Linked DNA regions of Homo sapiens: all the other regions are linked to region 1. Evidence: fine-mapped expression QTL. A gene starts in region 1. Each other region holds a variant in brackets. All regions are shown on one strand. Distances are from middle to middle.

Region 1 (4,341 bases):
AAGCAGGTGAGGAGCACGCAGAGCGCGTGGAAGGTGGCCAGCCCCATGAGCCAGGGCTCAGTCCAGTCCGTCTGCTGTAGGAACACACCAGCAGACACTCACTGTCCTGCCACTCAAGGCCGGGTTCACGGCCCACCCACAGCCTTCTCCCAGCGCAGGAGGCAGGGGCCTCTCACTCCTGAGTCCTCCTGGGCTACTCACCAAGTATCCAGAGAGCATTGCCAGGCCTCAGAGAAACATGGGGACAGGAAAGGGAGAAGGAACCAGGAGGATGGAAACAGGATTCTCCCCTCAGTGCAACTATAATTCATGGAATTCAAAGTTCAAGCACACAGAACTGAAGGCATCTCTGATGTGCTCCTTTCGTTTGTGGAACAGAATCATGTTTTTAAGGTGGGTATAATTAAAGGAATTACCATCCTTTACGATGATAATTGGTTATGATAATTGGTGACGACAAGGAAATTAAGACGATTGCTCAAAGAGATGCACTTGGCTCAGCCCCAAAGGTAAAACATGAATCATCATTTCAGACTCCTTAGTCAGCACTGAAGACCTCAGGGAATCTTGAGCCATCGCCACGTGCAAGACTTGATTTTCTCCAACCTCTCTGCAATACACTGAACTCTCCAGACAGTGCCGCACTCCGCCGCCTCCTGGACTCCCCGGGACCCTGCTGTACCTGGGGACAGTGTCTGGCTCAGGGACCTGAAGTAGCCAGGCTCAGATCCACTGCTGCTCAGTCCCCACCTGATGCTCAGATGCCAATCCCAGCAGTCCTCAACCCTCCCCATCCCCTCCTTGAGCGCCCTCCTGCAGAAGACAAGCCCTGCCCTCCAAGCTGCAGCCCCGCCCTGCCCTCCAAGCTGCAGCCCCGCCCTGCCCTCCAAGCTGCAGCCCGGCACAGCCCTCCAGAACTCCTGTGTCACTACTCTCTGCTGGGGACCGCAGCGGCTTCTCCAGAGCCGCGCCATGACATAAGGACACAAGCGCATCTACTCCCATCAATGCACCCACCAGAAGACCAGAGGCACGGAGGTGAGGGGAGCACGGCTTTCTGCCCAGACCCCATCGAGTGCCCATGTCACCCCTTGGCGGCCACGTGGGGCGTGGGCTCCCCTGGGATCTGTCAGACGAACCCGGCACGGCGCACGCCCCGCCCACACTGGGCAGCGTTCCTCCGTGCCACCCCACACGATCAGGCTCCACCACGCACGCCCCGCCGCACTGCCAGAATCCGCCCACATGGCCCAAGCCCCGCCCGCAAGACGCTGGACTGGCCGGCGTGCACCTCCCACACGAACAAAGCCCTACCCCTCGCGCTCCGCCCACACAACTCAGCCACGCCCGCACGGTGCAGGACGCCAGCCCAGCCCAAGCCCGGGCCACAGAGCGCCGGAGCCAGCTCACTGCGCACGCTCCTCCACAAGGCCCCGCCCGGCCCCGCCCCTCCCCGCCCAACGGCCCAGGACCCCGCCTAGCGCTCGCGCCCCGACGCCCGGCCCCGGCCCCCTCCCACAGGGCCCAGGACCCCGCCCACAGCGCGCGCCCCCGACGCCGGCCCCGAGCCACTCCCACAGGTCTCAGGACCCTGCCCAGCGCGCGCGCTCCGCCACAAGGCCCCGCCCACGGCCGGGGCCTTCTTGGCCACAGGCCGGGTGCTCTGTGGGGCCTACCCTACGCCTCTCCGCCGTCCTCCCCCGAACTGGTGGTTACGCGGGCCGCGAGTTACCGTGAGCACGGCTGGGATGCTGACGGGGAAAGAGCTGACAGAGAAGGCGGACGGCATGGTGTTGGGAAGCCCGCTCTCACAGCAACCGCCGAACCCGGCCTGGCCAGAATCCACAGAGGAGGGCGCCAAATCCTCTCTCGTGAGATCTGCCCTTCTCACGAAACTTGCGCTTGCTTCCTCTCGCGGTAATTTCATGGCATTGCTAGGTCCAGATATCGCGATATTTCCTGGTGGTCGCTGTAATACGGAAAACTTACTACGCTGCTGTGGGACTTGTGCTCGCTCCGCCAGGAGGCCGAGGGCGTCTTTAGTTCGTTAACAGAGGAGCAGGCGGAGGCGGGTGGAATTTAGGAGGTTTGTTTCAAAGGCTCAGGGCGCTGTACCGCCACGCCAGCCCTGTCCCACCTGGGACTCCCTAGAAGGGTCAGAGCATCAATGAGGACGGTGTCCGCCCCGAGACCCTGCAGGAGCCGGGGACATTGCCCACTCCTCGGACCCTGCAGGACTTGGGAAGGTGTCTGCTCTCGCGACCCTAAGGGCAGTGCACTCTTAGTCTGGGTCAGCTTAGGGTTATCTGTCTTCACTTTGGAGATTTACCAGATGTTCTTACGCTTCACTTCGTTGTTCAACGACAGATACAAAAATATAAAGTTAATTTTCTTCCAGCGAATTTTTTCCCTTTATTTTAACATCTATACCCCAACTTTGACATTTTCAAATTAAACATTCTGTTATTTTAACATCATGAATTATTAAGTGTATATACTTTAATTGCATATGTTAGCTCTTGAACTAGTTTAATGTTTCTAAAAATAGTTCTAGTGGTGGACTTTTTTTTTTTTTTAATAGCTTTAACCCCTCCCAGATCTTTCTTAAAATCTTTCCACAGTGTGGTCATTTCTGCTTATGCTACTTAACATGCATTCTCTCATTTCAGTGTAGAAGGTCATGGTTTCTTCTTATGGGAAAACATTTCTTTCATTGATATTTTTCTCTATTCTTCCTGTATTCAACTCCAGGAACATCCCGTTAGGTAGATAGTGCATCTTCCTCTCTTTTGTGTTTCTCAACCTTCCTCTCAAAACATCACGACTGTTGTTGCTGAGTTTGGGAAATCTCGGGCTTGGCTTTCCTGGTTTTTTTTTTTTTTTTTTAAGACGATGTCTCGCTCTGTCGCCCAGGCTGGAGCACAATGGTGGGACCTCGGCTCACTGCAACCTCCGCCTCCTGGGTTCAAGCTATTCTCCTGCCTCAGCCTCCCGAGTAGCTGGGATTACAGGTGTTCGCCACCTCACCTGGCTAATTTTTTTTGTATTTTTAGTAGAGACGGGGTTTCACCATGTTGGCCAGGCTAGTTTTGAACTCCTGACCTCAAGTGATTTACCCGCCTGGGCCTCCCAAAGTGCTGGGATTACAGGCATGAGCCACCGCACCCAGCTGGTGTGATGGTTTTCATCTGTGTCCATTCTCACTCCCCTGTGTTTGTTCAGCTATTTTCAACAGGACCTTTCAGTTACAGGGAATAGATCTGTCCTCTTCAGTTCAGCCTGTTACTGTGTATCTCCCTGATGATATTTCGTTACTATGTGAAACATCACTCTTATTAATTTCCATGGGTTAGTTTCATCGTCAGTCCTGTCTGGTGCCTGCCTTTCTTTTGTGGTGTCTGTTTTCTTGTAACTTCTGTAATTTGGGGTCAAACTCTTTTTGCTATTAATATTAACCACAGCCTATCTACGGTCACTGGGATTTTTTCTCTTCATCTTCCCCTCAGCCGCCCTCCCAGATCTTTCATATATTGTGCGCCCTGGCACCCAAGTTTCCAAAATTGTTAAAACTCTGGCCCTCAGCAGCTTCACTTTCAGTCCCAGGACATTCATCTTCCACATTCCTCCCGCCCTGCCGTTCTGAACAACGCTAGGCTGCCGGACATTTAGACGTGAAGCTTGTGCAATGTCGCCAGTCTGAGATGTGCTTTAATTTCAAACATACACCATCTTTCAAAGACTTTGTACCAAAATGTAAAATACATTATCAACAATTGTATTATTTTGCTTACATGTTGAAATTATATTTTGGACATACTGGACCAAATAAAATATATCAATAAAATTAATCTCTTTCTCTTTGCTATTTTAATGTGGCCAGTAGAACATGGCCTGCTCTCTCTGTTGGTATGTGAATGCTGACATGGACTCTATTCCATTTACCTGGAATTTTGTGCTTCCAGAAAAGACTGGATGAAGCCCCTCCCCTCCCTTCCCCTTCCCTCGCCACCCTTCTCTTCTCTTCCCTTTCCTTTTTTTTTTTTTTTTTTTTTTTTTTTTGCGTTTTGCTCTTGTTGCCTAGGCTGGAGTGCAGTGGCAGGGTCTCGGCTCACTGCAACCTCTGCCTCCTGGGTTCAAGCGATTCTCCCTGCCTCAGCCTTCCGAGTAGCTGGGATCACCGGCGTGTGCCACCATGCCAGGCTAATTTTGTATTTTTAGTAGACACGGGGTTTCACCATGTTGGCCAGGCTGGTCTCGAACTCCTGACATCAGATGATCCGCCTGCCTTGGCCTCCCAAAGTGCTGGGATTACAGGCGTGAGCCACCACGCCTGGCCCAATT
Region 2 (4,341 bases), 32 kb after region 1:
TTCATTCAATGGCCTAGCTGAGAAATTTATAAACTGATAGTGGAATTTCTTAAAGACATTTTAGATAACAAGGGAAACATCATGTTTAATGTGGCAGAAATTCAGCCCCTGAAACATTGTTTAACAAATCACCAGCTGAATCTTATCATAGAAAAACAGATTTATTTTTCAGACAGTTTTGAGAGGTATCTAAAATTCAGTACGTGTGCTGAACCTTCGAATGCTTTTGAAGGAGTTTGTCTGCTGAAAAGCTAAATAGCATCAAACTTAAAAGCGTATTTCTCCTGACATCAGGATGTCGGCTGATACTAGCCAGAATGAAATGTGTTCTTTTCCAACATTTTCAGTCTATGGGCAAGACTTGAGAAAACAGCAGTGACCTTTCTGCCTTCAGCTACCTCAGCAACCCTTTGTCCTATCTCTTTGCAATCACATATTTTTTCCAATATGTGATTCTAATAATTACATCTTCAGTGTTGCTGAAGCAATTTGACAAATAGTAATTAGATTTCAAAAGGATAGTTCATTTCATAAGGATAGTTTGGCATCATGATTTCTAATGATAAATACAACATAAAGTTTCTAAAATGCTGATGAAAACACAAAATCTAAGGCTATTTCATGCCTGATAACTAGAGCATTAATCATCCCGTTAAAGATATGTGTATGCATAGATACATACGCTTAAGGTGCGGGTCCCTTCAACAGGCCCAAATATTTACGTGCCTGTATTACAAGCTGTTCATTCATGGATCACAGAATGCTCAGTTCTTGAAAACTAGTGGTGGAAAGGACATCATTTAAACTCATTCTGACCTGGCCTTGAATCTCACTTTTGCAGCTTAGGGGCTTCTGTTATCTTGTAGGAACAATGGGAGTCCTCCGGGGAAGAGCTTCCTCGTCTGGGTCCCCCACGCAGAGCCTGCATTAGCCCTGAGTGGGTGGGTGCACACTGTGAGCCCTGAGTGGGTGCACACACGCGTCTCACACGCAAACCAGGCCGCAAAGGAAAAACCCGGACTGAGCTCCGAGTCCTGCCTGAGAGCTGCTCCTGGTTTCCCGGGCAGGCAGGAATCTCCAAGCCTCCTCCAGGGTGATGGGGAGAGGCCAGTCAGCGTTTGCTAACTGCAAATCACGGGTGGGAACGACCACAGCATAAGCAGCGCCTGGCACGGTGCCGAAAGCCAAGTTGAGGTGATGAGCCACGGGCTGGGGGATTTGAGGGGAGACGGTGCAGGGAACCCACAGAGCAAGACAGGGCCATGTCCCCTGAGCAAAGCCTGGAATGGAGACAGCACCTCTGGCCTCGCCCCGCCCGTGGCTGAGCCCCGCTGGAGAGATACGGGGCTGTGTGTCGTGGCTCTGGATGGAAATCCCTCTTTCCTCCCTTCCTGACTCGGTCTTTCTAACAGACGGCGCTGGCCCTCCTGCTGTGTTATCTCAGTGGCACTGTTTGTTCTGAGGCGTCTTCATGTTCCTCCTTCCCGTGCAGCCCTGGGCATTCCTTTACCATCAGCAGATTCCACGCTGTATTTTTATACACACTGTCGTGTAAAATACACACAACACTTGCCATTTTAACAATTTTGAAGTGCACCGTTCAGTGACAATAACCACATTCACGCTGTGGTACCGCGGACACCTCTTCCATCTCCAGAACCTTCCACCTTCTTCTTCCCCGGAAACTCCGCACCCATTAAACGAGTTAAACGACAGCGCCCCCTGCCCACCCCCCAGCCCGGAAGCCCTCGCTTTACCCTCAGTCTCTAGAAACTTCACTGCTGTAGATTCCTCGCAGAAGTGAAATCCTGCAGCGTTTGTCTTTTTGTGACTTGGCATAATGTTTTCGATGTTTTTGGGTTGAATCCATGTGGAAGCATGTGCCAGCATTTCCGTGCTTTTTAAGGCTGGATAACATTTCACCATCTGTGCGCCCCACACCGTGTTTACCCGTTCATCCAGCGATGGCTCCTGGGTTGATGCCACATTTCCACTACTCTGCGTGGTGCTGCCAGAAGCAGTGGTGCACGGATCCCTCCTATCTGAATCCCAGCCTTTGGTTTCCATTGCTATTTGTTGGAATATACCCAAAAGTGGAATTGCTGATCATATGGTAATTCTGTTTAGTTTTTTGAGTCTTCACACAGTTCTCTACAGTGACCAACTATATTATATTCCTCTCCATACAGTTTCCTACCGTGACCAACTATATTATATTCCTCTCCATACAGTTTCCTACAGTGACCACATTATATTATATTCCTCTCCATACAGTTCTCCACAGTGACCAACTATATTATATTCCTCCCTATACAGTTCCTTACAGTGACCAACTATATTATATTTCTCTCCATACAGTTCTCCACAGTGACTAACTATATTATATTCCTCTCCATACA[A/G]TTCCCTACAGTGACCAACTATATTATACTCCTCTCCATACAGTTCTCTACAGTGACCAACTATATTATATTCCTCTCCATACAGTTTCCTATAGTGACCACACTATATTATATTCCTCTCCACAGAGTTCCCTACAGTGAACACACTATATTATATTCCCCTCCATACAGTTCCCAGCAGTGACCAACTATGTTATATTCCTCTCCATACAACTCTCTACAGTGACTGGACTATATTATATTCCTCTTTACACAGTTCTCTTGGTGACTGCACAGTATTATATTTCTACCATGAATGCTTAATTGTTCTGATTCCTCCACAACCCAACAAACGCTTGTCATTATATGTTTTGTCTGTACATTTTTAAATATTAGCTGTCTTACTGGGTATGAAAGTTTGTGTGTGTGTATGAAGTATATTTTATATCATATTTTCATTGCTTTTTTTCTACCCTAATAGATTGAAGCTCAGATTCAAGAATCATCTCCATGTGTACCTGCCATAGACTGAACGTGTCCCCCAAATCCACAGTTGGAAACCTAATGGCCAAAGTGATGGTATTAGGAGGTGGGAGCTTTAGGAGGTGATGAGGTTTTGCTGGTGGAGCCTCATGAATCATCATGATAAGATTAGTGCCCTTATGAAAGGGACCCAGAGAGCTCCCCTGTCCCTTCTGCTGTGTGAGGACACAGGAAAAAGGCACCGTCCGGGAACTGGAAAGCAGCCCTCACCTGACAGCAGATCCACCACCATCTCGATCTCGAACCTCCAGCCTCCAGAACTGGGAGAATAGGTTTCTGTTATTAGAGGCCACCACGTTTATGGAATTTTCTTAGAGAAGCTCAAATTCACTAAGACAGTGTTCTCACACATTGCTTATGCATTAGCCCAAAGACTGGCACTTAATGTACATTTTGCTAAATGACATGACATAGAATGGAAGGCAAATTTGTCCTGTGATGATTTAGGTATACTGAGAATATAAAGACCTGTTATTCTGATGAAAGTAGTCAAAGTAATGTACCTTTTACAAGTGATGATGTAAGCATTTATGACAGAAAATTTCAAGAACATGGGAGTAGACAGAAGCATAGTGAACTCCTGTGTGTTTAACTCCAGCTTCAGCAACTATCAGCTTGTGTCCCAGGTGGTTGTATCTATACTTTCACAGCCCCAAAAGGACATTTTTGGGCCAAGGAAGAGAGACCTCCTTCCCCGTGGTTAGCTGAGTGTTTTTATAATATTGAATTTTGTCAAATGTTTTTTCTGCATCAAGATAATTTTTTCCTTCTTTTCTTAATGTAATGTGTTACATTCATCGATTTTCTGAGGCTGAACCACACTTGCATTTCTGGCATCTGTCGCACTTGTGCAGGGTGTAAAATCCCTTTAACATGTTGTTGAACTTGGGTTGCTGCCTTTGTTGTAGAGTTTCCGAGTGTTTACATTCATAAGAGACACTGGTTGGCAGTTTTCTTTTCCTGTTGTGTCTTGTCTGGCTTTGGTGTTGGGGTAATGATGGCTTCACAAGATGGGTTAGGAAGTGTTCTCTCCTTGCGTGTATTTTGGAAGGAGATTACTTTGTTTGAGGATTGGTATTAATTATTTCAATGTTTTCTAGAACTAGCCAATAAAACCATCTGGTCCTGGCCTTTTGTTTATTGAGGAATTTTTGAAGACTGAATCGATTTCTTTACTCCTTATAGGTCTGTTCAGATTTGTATTTCTTCTTGAGTTGGGCTTGGTAATTTCTGTCCCCAGAACTCTTTCCATTTCCCCAGGACACCTAATTTGTTGGCATACAACTGTTTCCAGCATTCTCTTATGATCCTTTCAACATCTGAAAGGGTGGTAGTAATGTACCCACTTTTATTTCTGTATTTGGCTATTTACAGCATCTCTCCTTTTTTAGTCAATGAGCTAAGGGTTTGATAATTTTGT
Region 3 (4,341 bases), 22 kb before region 1:
GATTCTCCTCCCAAGCACCCTTTTCCAGCACAAATTTATTATTTCCCTGCTGTGCTGCAGCCCCGGCTCCTCCTGGCTTCGTGCCTCACACACCTGCCGCTGTCTCCTGACCGGGTCGCAGTGTCAAGTTCTTTACACATGTGTACGTGCAGAGCGGACACACAGACACCGGAGAAGGTGGGAACACATGTGGATGTGCAGAGCGGATGCACAGACACTGGAGAAGGTGGGAGGTGGGGAGTAGCTGAGGGCTGGGGAATTGCCTGTGGGATATGATGCTCACTATTCGGGTGACAGCTGCCCCACCTTCACCACCACACAATCCATGCGTGCAAGAAATCTCCACCCATCCCCTCCAAGTATATAAACATATGATGAGAAGGAGAAACACTCTACACAGAGAATGTGACCCAACCTTGCTTCTCTGTCCACTTCCTGCTCAGCTGGCACACAGAGTAGAGCATGGGCACCTCCCAAGACCACCATGGCCTCCTGGTGAGGAGGCAACACCACGGGCTTCCAGATCTCCTTGTGTGTTCCTCAAACTCTCCTTGCCGCTGAGTGTAGGACGCTGTTTTCTGTCTTCGGTGCTCGCTCTTCTGACATCAGAGATTGACAGCACTGAGTCAGGAAGGAGAAAAGGACTCTGGCTTTGGGCCACGACAGCTCCAGATCCCATACCAACATCACTGTGGACTGCAGAATTTTTCATTTTTCTGGAAATCTCTTTTTTCATCTAAAATATGGAAATAATATCATTTACCTTACAGGGTTGTTGTGATGAAATGGTTCACTCAAAACCACTTCCCAGGAGGTTTCTGATGTAAACATGGCTCCCAGCACTGGGGCACAGGGAGGACAGGCTCTGCCCTCGGGATGCACACCTTCCAGTGTGCATTTAAGGAAGTGCAAGCGAGTTCATCAGGGAGCAGAATGAGTTTAGATAAAACTTCTGTAATATAATATAAAGTGGGGCTTCTGGGTGGAGATGAGTGGGTGACACTTTAGATGGGGGCCCAGGAAGTCCCCTCTGAGGAGGTGATGGCCGTGCAGAAGCAGATCAACATAAGCCTCAGCCAGAGGCACGCTCTGAGCAGAGGCGGAAGCCTGCTGGGGCCACTACGAGGAAAGACACTTGTTCTACAGGATCAGTGCGGGTGCAGCACTCTGAGTAAGTTACCATCCTAAAAATGAGGCTCTCCGTGGAGGCCACGTCACAAAGGTTGTCATACACGTGGTGCAGGCATTGGGTTTTATTCTGAGGACCTAAGAGCGATGGAAAATTCACCACAGCTCTGCACAGGCAAAGGAGGTTGTCAGATGATGAGATTTTCTAAGTGAAGTATTTGAGTCTCACAGAGGAACATATGTATTACACATCAAAGTTATAAAGCCTAAGAAAAAATGAACACTGTGTTGTCTATGGCAAGTAGAACATTGTCAAACCATTAAAATATACCTGGACACTCCTCCCCCAAGAGAAAACCACATAATTAATCACACAGAAAAAATCAGCAGTGGCTGATTGCATTTTCCAAAGACGGCACAAGACAAGCCCTCATCACACTTGCTCCTTCACAGTGGGACTCTGACTTTGACACACCTACCAGGATATGGGGTGCCGTGTCCCTGTCCTGGGTCCCAGGCAGTCTTTGTGACTTCCCCTGTGAGTGGGATGACATGGGATGAAAAAGTGATGCACCTTGTTGTCTTGAGACTTTTGTTCTTGGAACCAGCCACCTTGTTGTGAGGCAGCCCAAGAGGCCATGAGGAGGCCTGTATGGCCTGCCCTGCCATGGCCCCAACCCACAGCCCTTGCTGCTGATCAACACCAACCAGCTAGTCACAAGGGCAAGTCCATGTGGAAAGTGAAACTTCCTGCTGCCCCAAGCTGAAGTGTATGAAGCAAAGGCAAGCTGTCTCCTGGGATCTCTGCCCAAGTTACAGATCTGTGAGCAACACTGTGACTGCTGCTGTTTTCATTAGCTGAGGCTTGAGGTTGTTCATCACAAGGTACTAGTAAGTAAAAGAGATTTTGTACCAAGACTGGGGTGCAGCCATAAGAAAACCCAATGCATGTGTCCTTAGTGCTGGGAAGTGAGAGGCACCTGAGGGCCTTAAGTGTCTGTAACAGGAGATGTTCTAGATTTTCCACATTAGGGATG[A/G]AGTGCTGCGATTACTTAACTGTTTAGATAGTCTTTATTAAGTTACAAAAGTTTTCCTTTTTTCCTACTTTGTCAATAGTTTTTGCTCGATTAGTTCATTTTGTTTTTCAGTTCATGAGTTTTGAATTTTATCAAATGTTTTTTTCTGAAGCCATTGAACTCTTCACAATTGTAAACTGAGTTATGTTGTGTTTTCTCTTCAATACACAGCTGGGTTCATTTTCTTAACATAGGCAAGTTTTCCATCTGCATTTATAGAAGTTTCTATGTGTTCTTTCTTGTGCTTCTCTTGTCTAGTTTGAGAATCAAGTTTGCCACAATAAACTTAAATAATGGACTTGGTTTTGTGTGTATGTTTTTATTTTTAAATTTTATTTAAAACATTATTTTATATATATATGTATTTATTTTTTAAGTTTTTTTCTTTCTTATCTTATTTTGGATTGTTTTCTTTTTCTGTTTTCTTGTCTCTACAGATTTGATGGTTATATACTACATTCATATTTCTTTAATAGTTACTTAACAAGGCCTGAAGTTAATTAGTATCTGTCTTAACTCAGACTGCTCTAACAAACACCACAAACTGAGGGGCTTAAACACCAAAAATTTATTTTCTCACAGTTGTGGAGGCTGGGCACTGAAGATCAGGGCAGGAAGGAGGCACCCAATTTGTTTCCTGTGAGGGTTTCTCCTTGTGTTCTTCTAAGTCGAGAGCTCAGTGGTGTCTCCTCTTATCAGAACACCAGCCTGATGGGACCATGCCCCGCCCGGTGACCTCCTTCTACCCTGATGATCTCCTTATTGGAGCCACCACCAAATACAGTCCCACTGGTGGCTAGGAATGGACGTATAAATTCTGAGAGCACACGATCCAGCCCATAGCAATATCTGTAGTCTTCTCCTAAAAAGTAAAGAATAAAGAGCTTGAACAATTAGATTATGTTCAATTGTGTTCTCCTGAATTATCGGTTACTGCTGTCCAGTACTTTATCTTTCTCTCTCTCTCTCAAATGCATGTTATTATTATAATATCATTAATGTCACAATCATCATAATTTTCTGTAATGTGTTTTAGATTTAAACAAATAACCAATTCATTTTCTTCCATAACTTCTTACTTCTTTTACTATCACCTGGTAAAAGGAGGACATCTCTTAGTAGTTTCTTCAGGGAGTCTGTGTGTAGTAAACCCTCCCAATTTTCTTCAGCTGAAATGTTTTAAATTTGTTCTTATTCATGAAATATAATTTTACAGGGCACACACATCCAGGTTGACAATTATTTTCTATCAGCATTTTAAGGGATTATTCCAAACTTCTCTTAACTTTTAGTATTGCTTTTGGAGGTCTGCAGTCTACCGAATTGTCATTCTTATTAGACAGTGCCAAAGTTTTCTCTCTGTCTTACATATTTTACGTTTAGACTGGTTATTCTCAATTTTACTCCAGTATGTCCAGATGTATCTTTGTTTTGTATTTATTCTGCTTGATAGACAGCATGCTTTTGTAATCAAATTGTTTACTCATTTTTTTGCAAATATAGTCTCTCTCTAATTCTTCTTGTTCTATCCTATTGTAATTACATTCAATATGTACTGAATCTTCTCACTTTATCAACAGAATTTTAATAAACCCACATTTTTCATCTTCCTTTCTCTGTATTTCTCAACAGCCTCCTCTATGGACCACATGGCTGGTGCTGCAGGGAGGATCTGGGTCACCTCCCTGCTGGCCGCTGGGTCTCTACAGGCCTTGCTGAAAACCTTCCTGGGTAAACACCTACAGCTTGCATAACTTAGATCCGATGGCCCACAGGAGAGATTGCAACTGGGTGACCACGTGCCAGGGCGCCACATCAACAGCACTAGGAGCTGCCTTGGGGATGTAGGCGCCTTCCACGGGCTTTTCCAGAAACCAACTACAGGAATATTTTTAGAAATAGAGGTGTTCTCAACAAACAGAGTGGAACTAGTTAGATAAAATTAATCATTAGTGTATAGATCTCTGTAAATGTCTAAGAAATTATTATTAACTTAAAGCACTATTCTTACTAAACCTCCATGTTTTATGATGGAAACATATTATTTTTTCTGAAATGGTGTGTGGATTATCATCTACATTTCAATTGAGACATAAGCTTTGAATTGCTAGTTATCATTATTGCTTAGTGCAGTTGT
Region 4 (4,341 bases), 930 kb after region 1:
CCCTCCACCTTTCTGCTCCTTCCGGCTCTCTTTCCTACTCTCATCCTCATTGCCTTCACCTTCCGCACAAGACCCCTCTCCACACGTTGGCTCCCAGCAGATCCACATGCACGTTAACCTGAGTGTTGGCTGTCCCAGTAGACAGGGGTCTTCTGCTTCCTAAGACTTCCCCAAAAAATCCTGGATAAAAACTTGAACCACCTTTGGTGATGTGCTCTTCCTGGAGGCATAGCAGGGGCGAACATCCCCACCATAGCAACCTGGACTGAGAATAGGGGAAGACTGAAGTGTAGCTGCCAGGACACAGCCTGGCGGAACTGGGCACCCCGGCTCGAGGAGGACTCAGGCCAGGCATTCTTCGCAGAGATCCAGGTGGTAGAGGGCAGGGAGGGAAACCAAGGCATATCAGAAGGAACCCCAAGGAGGGCAGAGCAAGTCCGAGAATGCTCACAGCAGGCAGAGACCTTTCCCAGAGAGGGAATGAAGGAAATTTTGGGGAGAGAGGCCCTTGGGGTTGACCATGAAGGACAGGAAAGATGAGGATGGGCTCTGAGGTCACCCCAGCCACCAAAAGCAACAGAAAAGACCCCTGTGGCCTCACATCCTGTGCCCACAACAGCAGGGTTCTCTCAACCCACGGAAGTTCCCTGTGGACCAATCCAGATGCAGGTGCAGTGTGTAGGAGTCTGGGCAGGCAGAGAGGAAGGGAGCAGTGAGAATGCACCAGAGCTGCTTGGCCAGTCTTCTGGTTTGTCCAGGGACTGAGTGTTGCTGATAGTTGAGGCCACATTCATTTTTGAGATCTGCAGATGTTAGATGTTATTGATTTCTAAGTGCAATAAAGTTGAGTAGCACTGATCTAAAATACTTCCCCTCAGTCTGGCAGAAATACAGCCATTAGGGTTTGATTTAGAACCATCATTAGGAAGAATAATCAGAACACCAAGATCCTTTCTTTCCCAGCACAAGCAGGCTCTCGGCCATCGGGCATGTCATAATCTTGGAAGGTAAAACCCAAGCCCATGGGCACGAAAAAGTACTTCTGGGGAATTTTAACAGGAAACATTCTCCCTCCCTGCCTCCACCCTTGGAGACACCACTTCTGCACGGTGGTGCTTTTCAGCTGGGGAAGGTGAGTCAAGAGTTTGACTCATTGAATGATTCTTATCCTTCCCTAGTTTATGTCCGATAATGGAGAGGGGATGATTAGTAACACAGATGCAAAAGCAGCCCTGCCTTGAACCACTTCTCAGAGACAAGTTCAGGCCAACTCTGCTCTGAACACAGATCCAGTTCCATCTCAACTCGGAATAAAGATTCCCAGTCCAGGTAAAGGGCACTCATCATCTTCTCACCATTGCCTTCGTAGAAAGCACTTGCAAATGCACCTGCCACAGCTTCCAGCCTCACAACTGCCCTTCCTCTCCTTCCGCAGGATGACACCCATCCCCTGGGCGAATGCCCCATGTGCCCTGGAAAACCACATGTGCAGTTGTTGGGTGCAGTGTCACATGGATGCTGATTGGATCACGGGAATTGGCAGTACTTGAAGATCATCTAGGTCTTAATTTTTTTTCTAGTTATTTTATCAATTGCCGAGAGAGGAGTATTAAAGTCTTCTGCTTTGTGAAAAAGTCTATTTCTCCCTTTAATTCATGTAATCATAATTACACACTGGTAACTTATGCCTTCCTGATAATTTTTCCTTTTATTACTATGAAATGTCCTTCTTTGTCTCTGGTAATATTATTTGTATTCAGTCTGTTTTATCTGGTATTAACATAGCCATCCAGTCTTCTGTGCTCAATGTTTCCATGGTATGATTTTTGCCATCTATTGAACTTCTACCTATGTGTATCTTTAATTTTAAAGCATGACTCTTGAAAACAATACTGGGGTTGTTTTTATTCGCTCAGTCTCCTTTTAAATTATTTTTAATATACAATGTGTAATTATTAATTAATATAATGTCATCGTGGATACAATTTGGTTTAAAATTACCATTTTTTTCTGTGTGTCTGTTCTGCTTTTGTTCCTCTGTCTTTCAGATTAAATCTTTTTAGTATCCCATCTAAATTTATATTGCATTTTGCTGTATCTCTTTGAATCATTCTTTTAACAGCTGCTCTAATTATTGCAATAGACACATGTCATCTTTCACAGTTGGCTTGGAATTAATCGGACACCACTTCCTGTAGAGTGTGGAAAACCTGCAGCTCCACAGTCCTCCTCAGTGACCTTCCTGTCATGGATGTCAGGTGTTTTACATCTGTGTATATTGAAAACCACGCCAAACAGTATGAATGTTCCTTTCCACGCTCACAAATTTTAAATAACTAAGAGAAAAAGAAGTAGTCTTTTATATTT[G/T]TTCTGATATTTACTGTTTCCACTTCTCTTTCCTCATTCCTAAATATCCAAGTTTGCCCTGGCACTCTTTTCACTCATGCTGAACAAGTTCCATATGAAGACTTTCACTAGGCCGGGTCTGTTAGTGACAAATTCTCTGTATTTTGCTAAGGTCATCTGGAACTAAATGTATTTTGCCTTCGTCAGATGGATTTTGTTGTTGTTGTTGACAGTCTCCTAACACTTTCAAGCTGCACCTTCATGTGCCGGTTTCTAGAGAGAAATCCAGTCACTCAAATCATACCTCCACTAAATGTAATTGTGCTTTCAGTTTTAACGCGAAATGTGGAACAGATGGAAACCTGCTTTCTTTGAATTTTAAATTATATGCTTACTGGCTAAGAAACACAGTAAAAGTAGCTATTTTTTTTGTAACCTGTGAATGTCAGAGAGACGGAGGAAGTGGTTCTTTCCTAACGTTGCTCAGCTGTGCCTGCTGAGGCTCGCCGGAGTGCCTTATTTACTGATGCTCCAGACCACGCCCATCTGCTACAGCCACCCTGTCCCCAAAGCACAGGACATCCGCTGGCCCCTCCAGTGCAGCCCGCCACAGCTGGGCCACCACAACTGGACACCCACTGGCCCCATATAATGCAGCCTGCCACAGCTGGGCCATCACAACTGGACACCTGCTGGCCCCTATAATGCAGCCTGCCACAGCTGAGCCACCACAACTGGACACCCACTGGCCCCATATAATGCAGCCCGCCATAGCTGAGCCATCACAACTGGACACCCACTGGCCCCTGCAGTGCAGCCTGTCACAGCTGAGCCGCCACAGCTGGACACCCGCCGGCCCCTGCAGTGCAGCCTGTCACAGCCGAGCCACCACAGCTGGACACCCGCTGGCCCCTGCAGTACAGCCCGCCACAGCCGAGCCGCCACAGCTGGACACCCGCTGGCCCCTGCAGTGCAGCCGCCACTGAGCATCACAACCGCAGTTGTCCACCGAGATCCAAACCCCGCATGGTCCTACCTGAGGCTTCAAGTCACGCTTCTTCACTCAGCCAAAGGTCTGTGCACGCGTCGTTCTGGCCCCCAGATTCTGCTCCTTGAGATATGTGGCTGTTCCTCAACACTGGGGGAAGTTAAAGCCTGAGTTCAAAACCCATCGAGGCAGAAGCTCAGAAGTCACACGAATGAAGATCGAAATGTAATATTATTACCGACAATTGATAGCGAAGAAAATGGCTTCTTCCTGGTTGCCTGGTGAGTGTGTTAGAATTCCCTTCCTCCACCCTGCGTCCCTCAGTCTAGATCCTGGGACAGTCCACCTGAAGGGCAGCTTGGGTCCACAGAGGTGACCTGTATTCATGATATTTGCCTCCTACCATCCAGAGAGGAGAAACAGAGATGGAACTCTTCTCTGATGAACCCCACCGAATGAGCAGGGTCCCCAGCTGCCTCCTGTTACTGGGGAGGGGGAAGGATGAGGCCCAGAGCCCACCGAATGAGCAGGATGCCCCAGCTGCCTCCTGTTACTGGGGATGAGGAAGGATGAGGCCAGGAGCCCATCGAATGAGCAGGGTGCCCCAGCTGCCTCCTGTTACTGGAGAGGAGGTAGGATGAGGCCAGGAGCCCATCGAACGAGCAGGGTCCCCAGCTGCCTCCTGTTACTGGGGAGGAGGAAGCATGAGGCCAGGATCCCATCGAACGAGCAGGGTCCCCAGCTGCCTCCTGTTACTGGGAAGGAAGAAAGATGAGGCCAGGAGCCCACCGAATGAGAAGGGTCCCCAGCTGCCTCCTGTTACTGGAGAGGAGATAGGATGAGGCCAGGAGCCCATCGAACGAGCAGGGTCCCCAGCTGCCTCCTGTTACTGGGGAGGGGGAAGGATGAGGCCCAGAGCCCACCGAATGAGCAGGATGCCCCAGCTGCCTCCTGTTACTGGGGATGAGGAAGGATGAGGCCAGGAGCCCATCGAATGAGCAGGGTGT
Region 5 (4,341 bases), 230 kb before region 1:
CATTCTGATCACATGGTTAAAAAGTATTATCCCTGCAGTCATCAAAGGTCAGATTAATGTAACACTGATTTGAATTCAAATGTGATGTATTACAGTCGTGCCATTTGAAACTTTTTAATTTTTATCAGTTTTTACAGCCAAAGTTGAAAACATTACACTAGAATCATAAAAAAACAAAAGTGTTAAAAGTAACAGTTTTTTAAAATCAGTGTAACAATCCTGGGTCATTTGCTGAAATCTGTTAAAAAATGTATATGTACTTAGGAAATGCAAAACTGGTGAAAAATAAATGTGATTGTTGAAGAGGAACCAGCAGCCGTTGCTCCGTTCAGGTCGGAGCCCCTCCCTTGGTCCCTTGTGACCTCCTAGGAGCGGCAGGTCAGAGACCCTGTGAACGTCCTTCAGGGCTGGCACCTGCCCCACTCAGACATGGGGAGCACTAGCAAGGTGGTGGCCAGGAACCACACGCACAGCAGTTAACTGGCTTTTACTGATTGTTTAGGTTAAAAGTTCACCATTAATTACAAGTAACTGATAACATGCTGTTCATTTGTGAGCTGACAGCTAAGCCTTTCCCCAGGCACAGCTGGTGGCTGAACTGAACAGAGGCCCTAACCGTGTCACTGTGGCGAAGCCAGACCACTGGCCTGGGACAGATTTGTTGTCTTTCACCTCCAATTTCGTGCTGTTTCGTGTTTCTCTTTCTTCCCTTCAGTTCTCCTAGATTGCTGTCCTCGAGTGGCCACTTGGTTCCCTTCGTGATGCTGCGGCTCTTTAGGAAGCATTTCCGGTTCTGGGCTGACTCTATCTTGGAGGGCCCTTCCTTGATTCCTGCAACCAAGTAGGAGTGGACTCAGGGCCAGCTTGCCAACCTTGGGAGATGCCACTGGTGTCCCGAAGCCACTGTGTCAGGTCTCACAGCCTGTCCATTTGCAGGAGACACAAAGCCTGGCACCTCACCCACCACCAGTGCAGACACAGCCACACCCGGGCTCTGCCTTAACAGGCAGGGGAGGGCAGTGCTGTTAGGAGCAGTGGGATGACTGGGCCACTCATCTGAGCTTGCCCTTACTATGGACCTGGACCTTGTGGCAGGTGTTGGGTGTCCTAAGTATCCTCTAAGAACAATGACAAATGTCCATGTAAACTCAGGGTTCACTCTGCGTCCAGCAGCAAGAGCGTCAAGTGGGCCTTTACAAGTCCATTGTCAAATATCCACTATGCGTAAAAATTGCCTAAGTCCTGCCTGTCACTTGCAAATGGAAAATGGCCGGCAAGTTGAAAGAGAGGGCATGCCATCTGCTTCACAGGCACGAAGATGATGACGGGAGGCCCCAGGAGGAGGCTGCTCATGAAACGCTGGGTAAAAAAGTCTAAGAAGCTTTCGTTTCAGATGGTTTTCATTTATCAGAGATTCAGTGCCAAATTACACCATAATTTTGATTGAAAAACCCTTTTACAGAAAGACAAACAATGCTTGCTCTTTATAGTCGTGACCCTGTGGTCTGTAATTTAGTTTTTCTGAGCCTCATCTGCCAAAGAGTGATAAAATTCTGCTGTGGGTCTCATTGTGGTTCTCAACTTCCAGCTCCTTCCCTGCCCAGCAGATCACACGTTAACCTCCTTCACCAATACCAGTGGGTATTAAGAGCCCAGATCCAGGGATTGCCCCTCCCTGATATTCAACTTGAGTTATGCTAAAGAGCGTGGGGTAATTAACTCATGCCGTCACCCCGATGAATCAGATTCTCATTCTTTTAATTACTACCCACAGGGTGGCTTTAATGTGTTATTGTCTCTGTTGGACATTGAACGAAGACCTCATTTGCATTTGGTATGTTATTATGTTATTAATGTGCAGAAGATAGTTGCTATGTCTCGGAGTGGAAATGGAAATGACATTAAGATAATATGATTTTAGGCTGATAAGAGAACATTTTTCTCGTTTATCTCACTTTTAAAATGAAGTGCTGGCCCCAGAATGCAGCTCTGGGATATGGATTTTTAGCATAGCGTTACATGATCAATTTCCACTATATTTCCTGGGTGCTGTTGCATGGACCATTGTCAGTTGCTTCAGTGTTGATGCAACTTATATACCCTCGTTTTTCTCCATTTATATAATGGGTCCGTGTTGAAAGCCAAAGCTTGCAATTATTTTTCAAAGAAATATATTTTCATGGCCAAATACCCCATTTGGGAATAAATGTTAACACACTGAATTTTGATCTGGTGTAACTGGACATGTGATTTGG[G/C]ATTTGCATATTAATTTATTCATATAAAACATTTATTGTGATATTTCTATATATAATGATCATGCCCAGTACTAGCAACACAGGGATCAGTGGTTGTTACCCTCAATCATTTCACAGCCTACAGCTGGGTGTCTCGGTTCATAGCCTATAGGCCAAATGGTGTCTGGTTCATAGCCCATAGGCCAAATGGTGTCCATTTCCTTTGCTGAAGGTAAAACCTGCAGGTTGTGCACATGTACCCTAAAACTTAAAAGTATAATTAAAAAAAAAAAAGCAACACTAGCCCTCTGTGCTTAAATAATGAGACTTGTTCGTCTGAATGGTCATGATTCTTATCATGGGAGGGGACACCGTCATCAGCAGAGGTCCCTCTAGCTTGTGCAAGAGCAAATTGCAAGACCCTGAGGGCCAGACTGCCCTGGCTTTGGGTCTGAGCCAGTCCTTGGCAAGGAAACATGCCCACTGATGGTTCTCCTGGTACTGCCAACATTTTTGTTTTGATCAGATGTACAGTTTCTATAGAACTGAAAGGATAGCCTTAAAATTACTCTTGAACACTTCCCCATGAGTGAATCTCCACATTTACAGTATTTCTGTTTGTCATTGGCAGCAGTCTGCGGGAGAGGGAAGGCCAGGCGGCTTCCGGCTGATGACACCCGACACCTTGCAGCCCATGGAGGCTGCACTGCCACTGCCTTATTCATTATGGGCTGTTGGCCTTCTCCATTTGTGTAGGGAAAAAAATTTGCTTTCTTTACTTGCATATCAGCAATGCTTGGCATAAATTTGGCATTTGGTAAGTATTTGTTCAGTGCATGAATGTGTGGATGGCTGAGGTGTGTGTAATCAGCTCTAGGTGGAAAAGCAAACTTGGAGCAGTGCTAGCATTCCCATTGGTGGTCCAAAGCCTCTGCTAAAGTGACTGTGCTCCTAGGTAACTTCAAGTCTTCCAAATCTTATGATTGGAGGGCAGGTCTTCACTGCTAATGAAGACAGACATTCCAGGTCTCTATTCTCTGCCTGCTTCCCACTAGAAGAGTGGGGAGGATTGCTGTTGAATCTGGGTGCTGGAGGATGACACAGAGCAGGTGGCTTTGCCTCTGAGGCTCCACTTCAGCGGTGGCCCCTCCAAGGCGGTCACCATCGACAACATAGAATCTAGGGTGTCCAGTTGTGAAACAGTCGGTTAAGAAAAACTGCCCCCTTTAGAGTTTCCTTTCTACATAGAATTATTTTTATTTGTATTGGTAGTTCAAAACATAATTTTATTTTGTTCTTGGCATACATTTCGTAAAGAGTGATGGAGGCCTGAAAATAATATATTACTACAAATCAGACTATTACTACCTTAACACTTTAACTATAGATTAAAAACTTATAAAACATTTTCAATTGCTTTTATTGTGAAAATATTTGTCACATTTCTTTCTACTGCTGAATGCACTTAACTTTAAGTACCATATGTTTTCAATAATTTCAAAGGCGGGACTTTCTTTTAAAATACATTTGGTTCATGTCGTTCCAGAAAACTGCAGATTTCATAGACACTGCACACCTGGAGCTCTCCTGTTGGCACAGATACAGCCTGAGCATGCTTCTCAGCAAACACCCCCACTCAGTGACAGAACTGTCCTGGGGCCTGCAACTTCTTGCTATTCCGATTCTGGGAGTCTGCGATGGCTGTGGTTGCAATCTGGGCTGAGACTGGTGGTCAGGCTGCCCGGAGCACCCAGGTGTAACTGCACGGGCACCAGACGTGGAGCTGGGACACCTGGGGACTCCATGTGCTGGCTGGGGACTCCATGATCGATCTCCCAAGTCAGGCAAACGCTGTTGGCCTCGTGTGCAATCAAAGGCCACTGTGCTAGGTGGCCACTAAATTCAACTCTAGTTCGTATTCTTTACATTTAGTGTTTTATCTAGTCTTTTCATTCATTAAATTGAGCTCTGAAATTAGTCTGAAAAGTGAGAATTTGTACTAATTTTCCTTGCTAGTGACTCTTGAACCGTCACCCTCCATAATGATTTTTGCTTTGTAATAGCCACCCAAAATAGTACCCCATGCATTATTTTTCTTTTTACCTTT
Region 6 (4,341 bases), 39 kb after region 1:
TGATGAGACAAAGAACTCGGCTCTTGCTGGTTTCTTCCCAGCGATGGCAGAGTTCACTTTTCACTGGCTAAGGCAAGTCAAATGCCCCGGCACAACCTCAAGGGGGCAGAAGAGTGCAGTTTTAACAGGTGCCCAGAAGAAGGAGAACCGGAAGCATCGCTGGACATCAAGGATTCTGCAAAGCAGAGAATAAACCCCAGATTGCTTAGGGGAAACCAGCTGGGTAGCGGTTTAATGGTTGGAGGAGCATGGTCAGGGCAGTAAGTGAACACAGTACCAGGGGAATTTGTAGAGAAGAAATGAGGACCCAGGGTGAGAAATTGTTCAAGGCCAAAGACAGAAGTCGCTGGTCTCTGTCAACACTTCATCCTCAGGGCCTGCCTGCATGCTCAAGGGACCCTGGTTGCATGGCTGTGCAGGTGGCCCGAGCTGCCCAAACCTTGCTCTGGCACAGAGGCAGGCCCGTCAGGCGTGTTCCATCTCCCTGTTGTGTGACTATAAGAGAATTACCTGAGACTGGGTAATTTATAAGAAAAAATGTTTATTTAGCTCACTGTTCTGCAGGTTGAGAAGTTCAAGGGCCTGGCCTTGGCTCCCTGTGAGGGTTTCTGAGCTGGGTCATAACATGATGGAGAAGGTCAGAGGAGAAGTGAACAGATGTGGAGAGGACCAAGCAGAAGGAGAATCTGCACCTTGTAACAACAGTTCCAGTGGGAGCCAGTCCAGTCTCTGAGAGTGAAGCCACACTCAATACCTCACAAAGAAGGATTCAGTCCCAGGACATAAACACCTCCTGCCAGGATGTAAACACCTCCCACCAGGCCCCACCTCCAAACACTAACACATTGAGGATCACGTTTCACATGGAACTTGGTGGAGATGGCAAACCACGTCCAAACCACAGTCAGCTTCCTCACCTCCTGCAGTGCATCCTTGGCTGAGTTTACTCAGTATACCCAGGATGCTCATGTCCACTCACCAGATCTTCCATCTCATGCACCCTCACCTTCCAGATGCAGCTGCAGTAGTCCTCACCTCCACCCACCAGATCTGCTTCCATCCCATGCACCCTCGCCTTCCAGATGCAGCTGCTGTGATCACGTCCACCCGCTAGATCCTCTTCCATCCCATGCACCCTCACCTTTCAGATGCAGCTGGAAGCATGTGAAGCATAATAAATAAACTCAACTTAACCTCGTCTCTTATTACATCAAACCCCCGAGTTGGTGGTGTAAGTTGCCTAATTCTGGCTTTGGATCCCAGCTCCATTGCTTTTTTACTTGACCCTGCGTGAGTTCCTTAAGCTCCTGTGTGGCTTCAGGCAAAGTGTCTGGCCTTCCTCGGTCTTGCTTGGCACATTTGTGAGCCGAGTAAAATATATTATAAACTATTAATCCATAGGGAACAATGATCATGGTGTATTTTATTTTAGCTTTTATTTCAAAACACGATTAAGGAATGCATAATTTTCCTTTAATCATTTGTTTATATCTTTTCAACTTACTTAGATTTATTCTCTATTAACTAATTTTTGTTACTATTGTAATAATCAATAATTAGAAAAATAACCTAGCCATCACTGATTATTCGTGGGATTCAGGAACCCAATGATTTCCCTGAGAATCACCTTGCTGTAGGGACTGAGGGGAATTTTCCTGTTACTGAGCCTGGCCACTAGATGGATGCATGACCACCTCACTTTAGCTTTCTCGACTTTCAGTCCTAAAAAGACTTACAAGGATTCTGCACCTTTTCTCCCACCTCCCCCGTTCCTTGAATGGTGAATTTCTATAACATTTGATAACTGTTCTTTTAATAATTCTTGACCCTTTCTGTGCTTTCATTTAACCTCAAGTCTAGATTATTATTCAAATTGACTCATTTGGTAAAAATATATTGGGTATCTATCATGCAGCAACAGCTTAATGGGATCCCTCGTGAAGCCGTCAAGTGCTGAAGCTGTGAAAGCTGGGGCCGGCGGATCGGGTCGGGACTGCCGCTGTGATCACTTTTAGGCCAGCGTCAGCAGAAGCCTGTGTGATTGCAGGCAGATCTACGCTGTCTTTCAAACG[T/C]GGTGACACCGAGGTACAGCGTGGGGGACACGCAGCAGGGTTAAGGGTGTGGGGGGAGCTTGTTCGTCCTCCTTGGAAACCATGACACGGGGAAGGGGATTTAGGCCTCCTCAGTTCCACACTCCTCCTTTCTAGAGGCCAAGGCAGCCCTTTGATCAAGGTCACATTGCTCCTTAGAGGCAGCTCAAAAGCAGTTTCAGGAGGGAGCTCTCCACGTCTTTTTAGAGACAAATCTCCTCCGTGTGAGGGTCTCTGAAGCGGCAGGGTCCGTGGGGCCAGTGAGGCTGACTTCGTGGCTGGGCCCCCACAGTACAGCCACGATGACAGGGATGGGACAGCTGCACAGAGGTCAGTGAGCCCTGGGGATGAGGGGAGGAGGAGGGGAGGCCTTGGGGTGGGAAGGGGTTCCTGAAGAAGGTTATTCTAGGTGGGGCCTGAAATAACTCCTTCTACAAATGAAGAGGCGACAGGTGTGGGATAGAGGGTGGAAGGGGCAGACCATCCCAAGAAGACACCAGGACACTGAAGTGGCTGCTGGGGTGGGTGTGTTGGGTGGTGGAGGGGCAGCAGGCCCTGGTCATGGAGATGAGGCTGGGGATTAAACAGTGGCTCTGTCACAAAGGCCTTCTATGCCATCCTTGCACGTGTGAATTATTTTTTTCAAAATGCAATGGAAAAACTTATTTTCAATCCTAAATCTTGGTCTATTCTATGGTTTAGAAGTTTGGAGACTTACCAGAATACTGATTTATTACCAGCAGTAGGCTCAGGGATATATTGTGGGAATGCTTATGACCTTTATTTCTTCAGGAAAATGAAGTGAATATGAACATTATTAAATTTTTGCCAAAGGTTTTTTTGCCAAAAAAACTTTTCTCATTGAAGAGAGTTATAAATGTTTGCTTGAAAAGTATGTGTGCATTGATTGGTCATCTATAAATTAGATTGGATTTTTCAGCCCGATTTATTATATTGGTTACTTCACAAGGTCACACTGCCTTGAATATTATTTTGCCATAGCAACACGAAGGGGCAAGACAAGGAAGAGGATGAGGAGGAGGAAGAGAAATAAGAGGCGTCAACATCAACCCCCTCCGGTGTCAGCTGGTGAACGTCATCCACGTGGTTGGACATTAAATATGAGCCCTTTAGGAAAAGTTGGGGCCATAAATACATTATTAATACCTATGTGGGTGGGCCAAGTAAGTGACCCACATGTGATACTGGAAACTGAAAAGTGGAAGATGAAAAGAGCTTGTGTGGTGGGGAGAGGAACAGAGTCTCCATAATCAGAATGCTTCAGGGGCTGTCATGCTGGAACATAAATTAGTACACAATTTTGATAGAAGACATTTTGAATGCATTAGAACAACTTTAGCATGGTTCCTACCATGTGCTCAGCAATTTAACAACCAGGCATTTTACCAAAAGAATAAGCATGCCAACCTAAGCAACATAATGAGACTCTGTTTCTACAAAAATAAGAAAAAAATAGCCAGGCATGGCGGCGTGCTCCTGACATCCCAGCTTCTCAGGAGGCTGAGGCGGGAGGATCGCTTGAACCCAGGAGGTCGAGGCTACAGTGAGTTGTGATCACACCACTGCACTCCAGCCTAGCTGACAGAGTGAGACCTTGCCTCAAAAAAAAAAAAAAAAAAAACCATGTACGGTGAGATTTTGTAACAGAGGCGACAATTGATCAAGTGTTTATTTAGAGAAACTATTGGAAATGAAATATTAGAAATAAACTAAATATTCAAGAACAGGCAATTATCAAAAATGTTATGGCATATGCATAAAATGAAATGCCATGAAATCATTATGTATTATGATGAGAGAAATATGAAAAATTAATGAAACATAGTTATCATGCCCTAGTTGTTCTATGTGTCACCATTCTATGGCATTACATTAAGGATGCCTTATCTTTAATTTTAGTTTTCTATATATTGAAGTATCATTTACATAAAGCAATGACCACAAATTTCAAACATGAAGCTCAGTGGATTTTCCCCATATACACAACTGTGTGCACACTACCTGGGTATAGATACTAAACACATCTACCACAAAGGCTGATCCCTGCTCCCTCCCAGCCAGCAGCCCTGGGAGCAAACATCACCACAACCTGTTCTGAAGATTCATTTCACTTCTATTTTGAATTTCATATGAATACATATCTTATGTTATCATATGTATTATCTTGCTTCTGGCTTCTGTCAAGCAACATTATAGCAGTGAGATTCATAGTTTTGCAGTGTAATCAGTT
Region 7 (4,341 bases), 120 kb after region 1:
GCGCAGCCGCGTCGGGGAGGAAGATTTATGGACAGGGAAGGGAAAGTAACAGACAGAAACGGACGTGAGGGACAGAGACAGCTGGACTGATTACAGCCCGCATTTGCCTTATTTTAACAGGGTTCAAACAACCGGCTACGTCTGAGTGGCCAAATCTCGGTGATTGGCGCAAGTATAGGCTACAGTCTGTGTACAACTCCGCTTAGGTTATAGCTCACCACGTACAGAGAAACCTCTAGGCCGAACTTAAAATATGTAAGGAGGCAGCTTTAGGCCACACTTGATTTGACACCCAGGAGTGGGGGCCCTCCACTCCCTCAGGCCCCTGGGAACAGGCCTTGGGCACCCTCCCTGCTCCCGCACAAGGCCTGACTCCAGGCAGTCCTGAGGCCGCATCCTGCACTGCGCTGCGGGATCCTGGCTGCTCTCTTCCCGCCTGGAAGACTTTGCACAGCCACGCATCCCTACCACTACCCAGGGATCCCGGGAAGCGAGCAGCCCAGCAGCTGTGGGAAACACCAGCCCCTACAACCTTCCTTGAAAGCTCTGCCGGGGCCGGCTGCTGTAGTGGGGACTTCAGTCTGGTGAGTCAATATTACGTTGCGTGGAACGTGAACATGGACGCCACTCCGTCCGGGATTCAGCGCAGCGGCACTCTCTCTGCTCCACTATTAGGAAAGACGTGCCTGGAATAAGGAAAATCATTCCTTTTTTTTTTTTTAAGGAATCAAGGGTCATGGGCTCCCCTTGGAAGTAGCTTGAGGCTCCATACGGCTGACAGTGCCAGCTGCACCCCCAGGAAGGTGTGCTTGCCTTTGAGTTGGGTGGGGTACATCTAGAGTGGGGCTCTGGAACCCGGCTGCTGGGGTGACAGCCCCACACAGCCCCTGAGGCTGTGAACCTGGGTGAGTGAGCCAGGCCCCCTGCAGCTGCCTGCACCCATCCGGCTGTTTCTGGCTCCTTCTCACCTGATGAGTTGGTGTTGAGCCCAGACCAGTTATGACCTAGAGGGAGGGGGAGGCCTTGACTGTTCCTACAGAGCCCAGTATGAAGTAATTCTCAAAATCCGACTGTTTTAATGTTTGAATGTATTTGAGTGTGTTTAATTGGTTCAAAATTTAAAATAAAAAATAAGTAAGTAAAATCCCACCTTGTCTACTTGTTCACCCAGCAACAGAACTCCCTGTCTGAAGTTAATTGCTTTTTCTGTGTCTTCTGGATGATCCCAGAAACAGTCCATCCATGTGCAACAAATAACAGCAAATAGCATCCATGTATATGTGTGTGTGTGTGTGTGTGTGTGTGTGTGTGTAGTCCCCTGTTTATAGACAGGGAGGTGCCCCTGCACACACACAGTGCACAGTGCATACTACATGTATATATGTGTGTTTATATATATATTCCCCTGTTCATAGACAGGAAGGTGCCCCTGCACACACACAGTGCACAGTGCATGCTACATGTATACATATATGTGTGTATATATATAGTCCCGTTTATAGACAGGAAGATGTCCCACGCACACAGTGCACAGTGCATGCTACATGTTCTGCATTACACCTGTTGTATGTTACACACTGTATGATACAGCATATTGTTGAAACTGGAGAATTCTCTGAATTCCCCTCGCAGGACATACTACAGGAGTGTGGCTCACCTGTTTGGCCACCTTGCAGCTCAAACCCCTAGCAGGAGCATGCAGAGGGGCAGGGGCAGAAGCTGGGGCAAGGACTTTGGGCTCTTGGCCCTGCAGTAGTTTCTAGAGGTGAGTGCGTGCAACCCCCGTGTCACAGAGCTCTCTCAGCTTGGCTGCCTGTACATGGCTTGAGTGTTAACCAGCTCAGCAGACCTTCTGCCTTATCACAAGGGCAGAGAGCCAATGGGACAGCCTTCTGTATCCCGAGCTCTTGTCTAGCGTCCTGGAAGAATCGAATCACAAGCAGGATCGAAGGATGAGTGCAGGGTTCTGTTGAGTGGTGAAGGTGGCTCTCAGCAGATGGACGGGGAGCTGGAAGGTGGAGGAGCGGGGGAGATCATCTTCTCCTGGAGTTTGGCTGTTG[T/C]CAGTGAACTCCTCTTGGTGTTCAGGTGCCTCTTCCCTCCTTCTCTGCCGGGCCACAGTGTTGCTCTCTGCCTCTCTCCACCGCTCTCTGCTGCTCTCTGCCACTTCTCTTGACATTCAGCAGTTTGTGTGTCTGCCTGCTAAGGTCTCGGGTTTATATGGGCACAGGATGGGGGGTGTGGCAGGCCAGAGTGGTCTTGGAAATGCAACATTCAGGTGGGAAAACAGAAGTGCCTGCTCTCACTTAGGTCCATGGACACAGGCCCGAGGGTGGAGCCCTCACTGGGAGCCTGCCCTTCTCTACCCAGCCCTTTCCTGCCCCTCCTGTATCATCGTGACCTACATTGTGCACTGTCTATTATATGTTGCTTATAACGTATTATTTATATTCTGCTAATGTTTTCCAACTTTAATTCTTATACACACAAAAACACATGATGCACACAATCTAAAATCAGGTTTTATCACTTAACCATATATCTTGAAGATTATGCCTTACTAGTATAGAGCTTATCATTCTTTTGAAAAGAAATGTTATTTTCCATTGAGTAGGTACGGCCTTGTTTATTTAAGCAATGCCTTATTGAATTACTTATAAGGTATTTAATTATTTTTTAATACATCAATCTATATACTTTATACATATGTGATAACATATATCTAATAAAATTTAAGATATCAAATTATCAGGTCAAAAGAGTAGGAGCGTTTTATCTTTAGTGTCTAATTTTCAAATGCTTTTTATAAATGCTAAGCTGGTTTGCAATTCTACCAGCAATGTGGAAGAGAGCACACATCTTTCCACATTCTTAATGATCCAATTATTCCTAATCCTAGAGGCAGAAATCAAAAATCATAATTCATGATTTCAATAGTTTTCTTATTTTTAATTAAATTAAGCATCCTTTAGAGCATTTGTACTCTGTTTATTGTCTCATCTTTTGGCCATTTTTTCAGTCGGATTATTGGTATTTTTATTACTGAATTGTAGAATCCATTTAATCATTTAAAAAATGTGCTTTATGATAGCAACGAATTTCATGATTTGTCCATTTCCTTGGAACCATGACACTTTTAAAATATTGATCAAATTATAAATTTTAATTGTTCTACTTATAGTAATACTTGGAAACATTTCTCATTCTGAAACCATAAGAAAATATCTTCATGTTTTTTGGTGCTTATATAGTTTTAGATTTTACATTTAAATATTTGATTCGAAAACAGTTTATTATGGCATAAACTGTGAGTAAATGATTTAACTAATCTTTTGTTAAAACCACAACCATATTCTTTGCTGCAGATGACAGGGCTTGTTAATACCATGCTTTTTCTCTAAGTTCGAAATCCAACTCTGAAGTATTCCGGGCCAGGGTTTATTTTTCTTGTCCCCGCCATGCTAACATTTGTGTTATTCAACTGCATAAAGCACTGATAATTAAAGAGAAACCTTTTGAAAACTAAAGGAATTTATTTTGCTATTTACTAATTTTTATAAGTTATTTAGTTGAATAGGATTGTTTCTAAGTTTTAGGTAAAAATTAAAAAATAAATAAATAAAATAAAATAGGGGGGAGGAGCCAAGATGGCCGAATAGGAACAGCTCCAGTCTGCAGCTCCCAGCGTGAGCCACGCAGAAGACGGGTGATTTCTGCATTTCCATCTGAGGTACCGGGTTCATCTCACTAGGGAGTGCCAGACAGTGGGCGCAGGTCAGTGGGTGCGCGCACCGTGCGCGAGCCAAAGCAGGGCGAGGCATTGCCTCACTCGGGAAGCGCAAGGGGTCAGGGAGTTCCCTTTCCTAGTCAAAGAAAGAGGTGACAGACTGCACCTGGAAAATCGGGTCACTCCCACCCGAATATTGCGCTTTTCCGACGGGCTTAAAAAAAGGCGCACAACGAGATTATATCCCGCACCTGGCTCGGAGGGTCCTACGCCCACGGAGTCTCACTGATTGCTAGCACAGCAGTCTGAGATCAAACTGCAAGGCGGCAGCGAGGCTGGGGGAGGGGCGCCCGCCATTGCCCAGGCTTGCTTAGGTAAACAAAGCAGCCCGGAAGCTCAAACTGGGTGGAGCCCACCACAGCTCAAGGAGGCCTGCCTGCCTCTGTAGGCTCCACCTCTGGGGGCAGGGCACAGACAAACAAAAAGACAGCAGTAACCTCTGCAGACTTAAATGTCCCTGTCTGACAGCTTTGAAGAGAGCAGTGGTTCTCCCAGTACGCAGCTGGAGATCTGAGAACGGGCAGACTGCCTCCTCAAGTGGGTCCCTGACCCCTGAC

The links.
Region 2: its variant is fine-mapped to the expression of TMEM18 in thyroid (GTEx, PIP above 0.99). The same link has a PIP of 0.9 or more in aorta, esophagus muscle, lung, pancreas, spleen and testis.
Region 3: its variant is fine-mapped to the expression of TMEM18 in prefrontal cortex (GTEx, PIP above 0.99).
Region 4: its variant is fine-mapped to the expression of TMEM18 in tibial artery (GTEx, PIP above 0.99).
Region 5: its variant is fine-mapped to the expression of TMEM18 in skeletal muscle (GTEx, PIP 0.98).
Region 6: its variant is fine-mapped to the expression of TMEM18 in prefrontal cortex (GTEx, PIP above 0.99).
Region 7: its variant is fine-mapped to the expression of TMEM18 in gastroesophageal junction (GTEx, PIP 0.99).

The regions. Positions count from the first base shown.
Region 1 is chr2:675,557-679,897 of GRCh38, forward strand. TMEM18 (transmembrane protein 18) reads right to left here and starts at 1,850. Exons shown (of 5, transcript NM_152834.4): 1 at 1,733-1,850; 2 at 1-74. The coding sequence starts at 1,789. It overlaps TMEM18-DT (TMEM18 divergent transcript), which reads left to right and starts at 1,816. Exons shown (of 3, transcript NR_183417.1): 1 at 1,816-1,917. RefSeq lists enhancers at 1,125-1,890, 1,793-1,892, 1,923-1,992 and a silencer at 1,383-1,632.
Region 2 is chr2:707,628-711,968 of GRCh38, forward strand. The region is part of intron 2 of LOC105373358 (a long non-coding RNA gene); the gene reads right to left. Among named protein-coding and RNA genes, the nearest start is that of TMEM18, 32 kb to the left of the region's middle. The variant A/G (reference allele first, on the strand shown) is at 2,400.
Region 3 is chr2:653,988-658,328 of GRCh38, forward strand. No RefSeq gene overlaps it. Among named protein-coding and RNA genes, the nearest start is that of TMEM18-DT, 21 kb to the right of the region's middle. The variant A/G (reference allele first, on the strand shown) is at 2,166.
Region 4 is chr2:1,607,037-1,611,377 of GRCh38, forward strand. All of the region lies in intron 4 of LALTOP (lung cancer associated lncRNA targeting TOP2A), which reads right to left. Among named protein-coding and RNA genes, the nearest start is that of LALTOP, 16 kb to the right of the region's middle. The variant G/T (reference allele first, on the strand shown) is at 2,368.
Region 5 is chr2:446,795-451,135 of GRCh38, forward strand. No RefSeq gene overlaps it. Among named protein-coding and RNA genes, the nearest start is that of LINC01874, 44 kb to the right of the region's middle. The variant G/C (reference allele first, on the strand shown) is at 2,256.
Region 6 is chr2:714,369-718,709 of GRCh38, forward strand. All of the region lies in intron 1 of LOC105373358 (a long non-coding RNA gene), which reads right to left. Among named protein-coding and RNA genes, the nearest start is that of TMEM18, 39 kb to the left of the region's middle. The variant T/C (reference allele first, on the strand shown) is at 2,073.
Region 7 is chr2:795,914-800,254 of GRCh38, forward strand. All of the region lies in intron 2 of LINC01115 (long intergenic non-protein coding RNA 1115), which reads right to left. Among named protein-coding and RNA genes, the nearest start is that of LINC01115, 70 kb to the right of the region's middle. The variant T/C (reference allele first, on the strand shown) is at 2,061.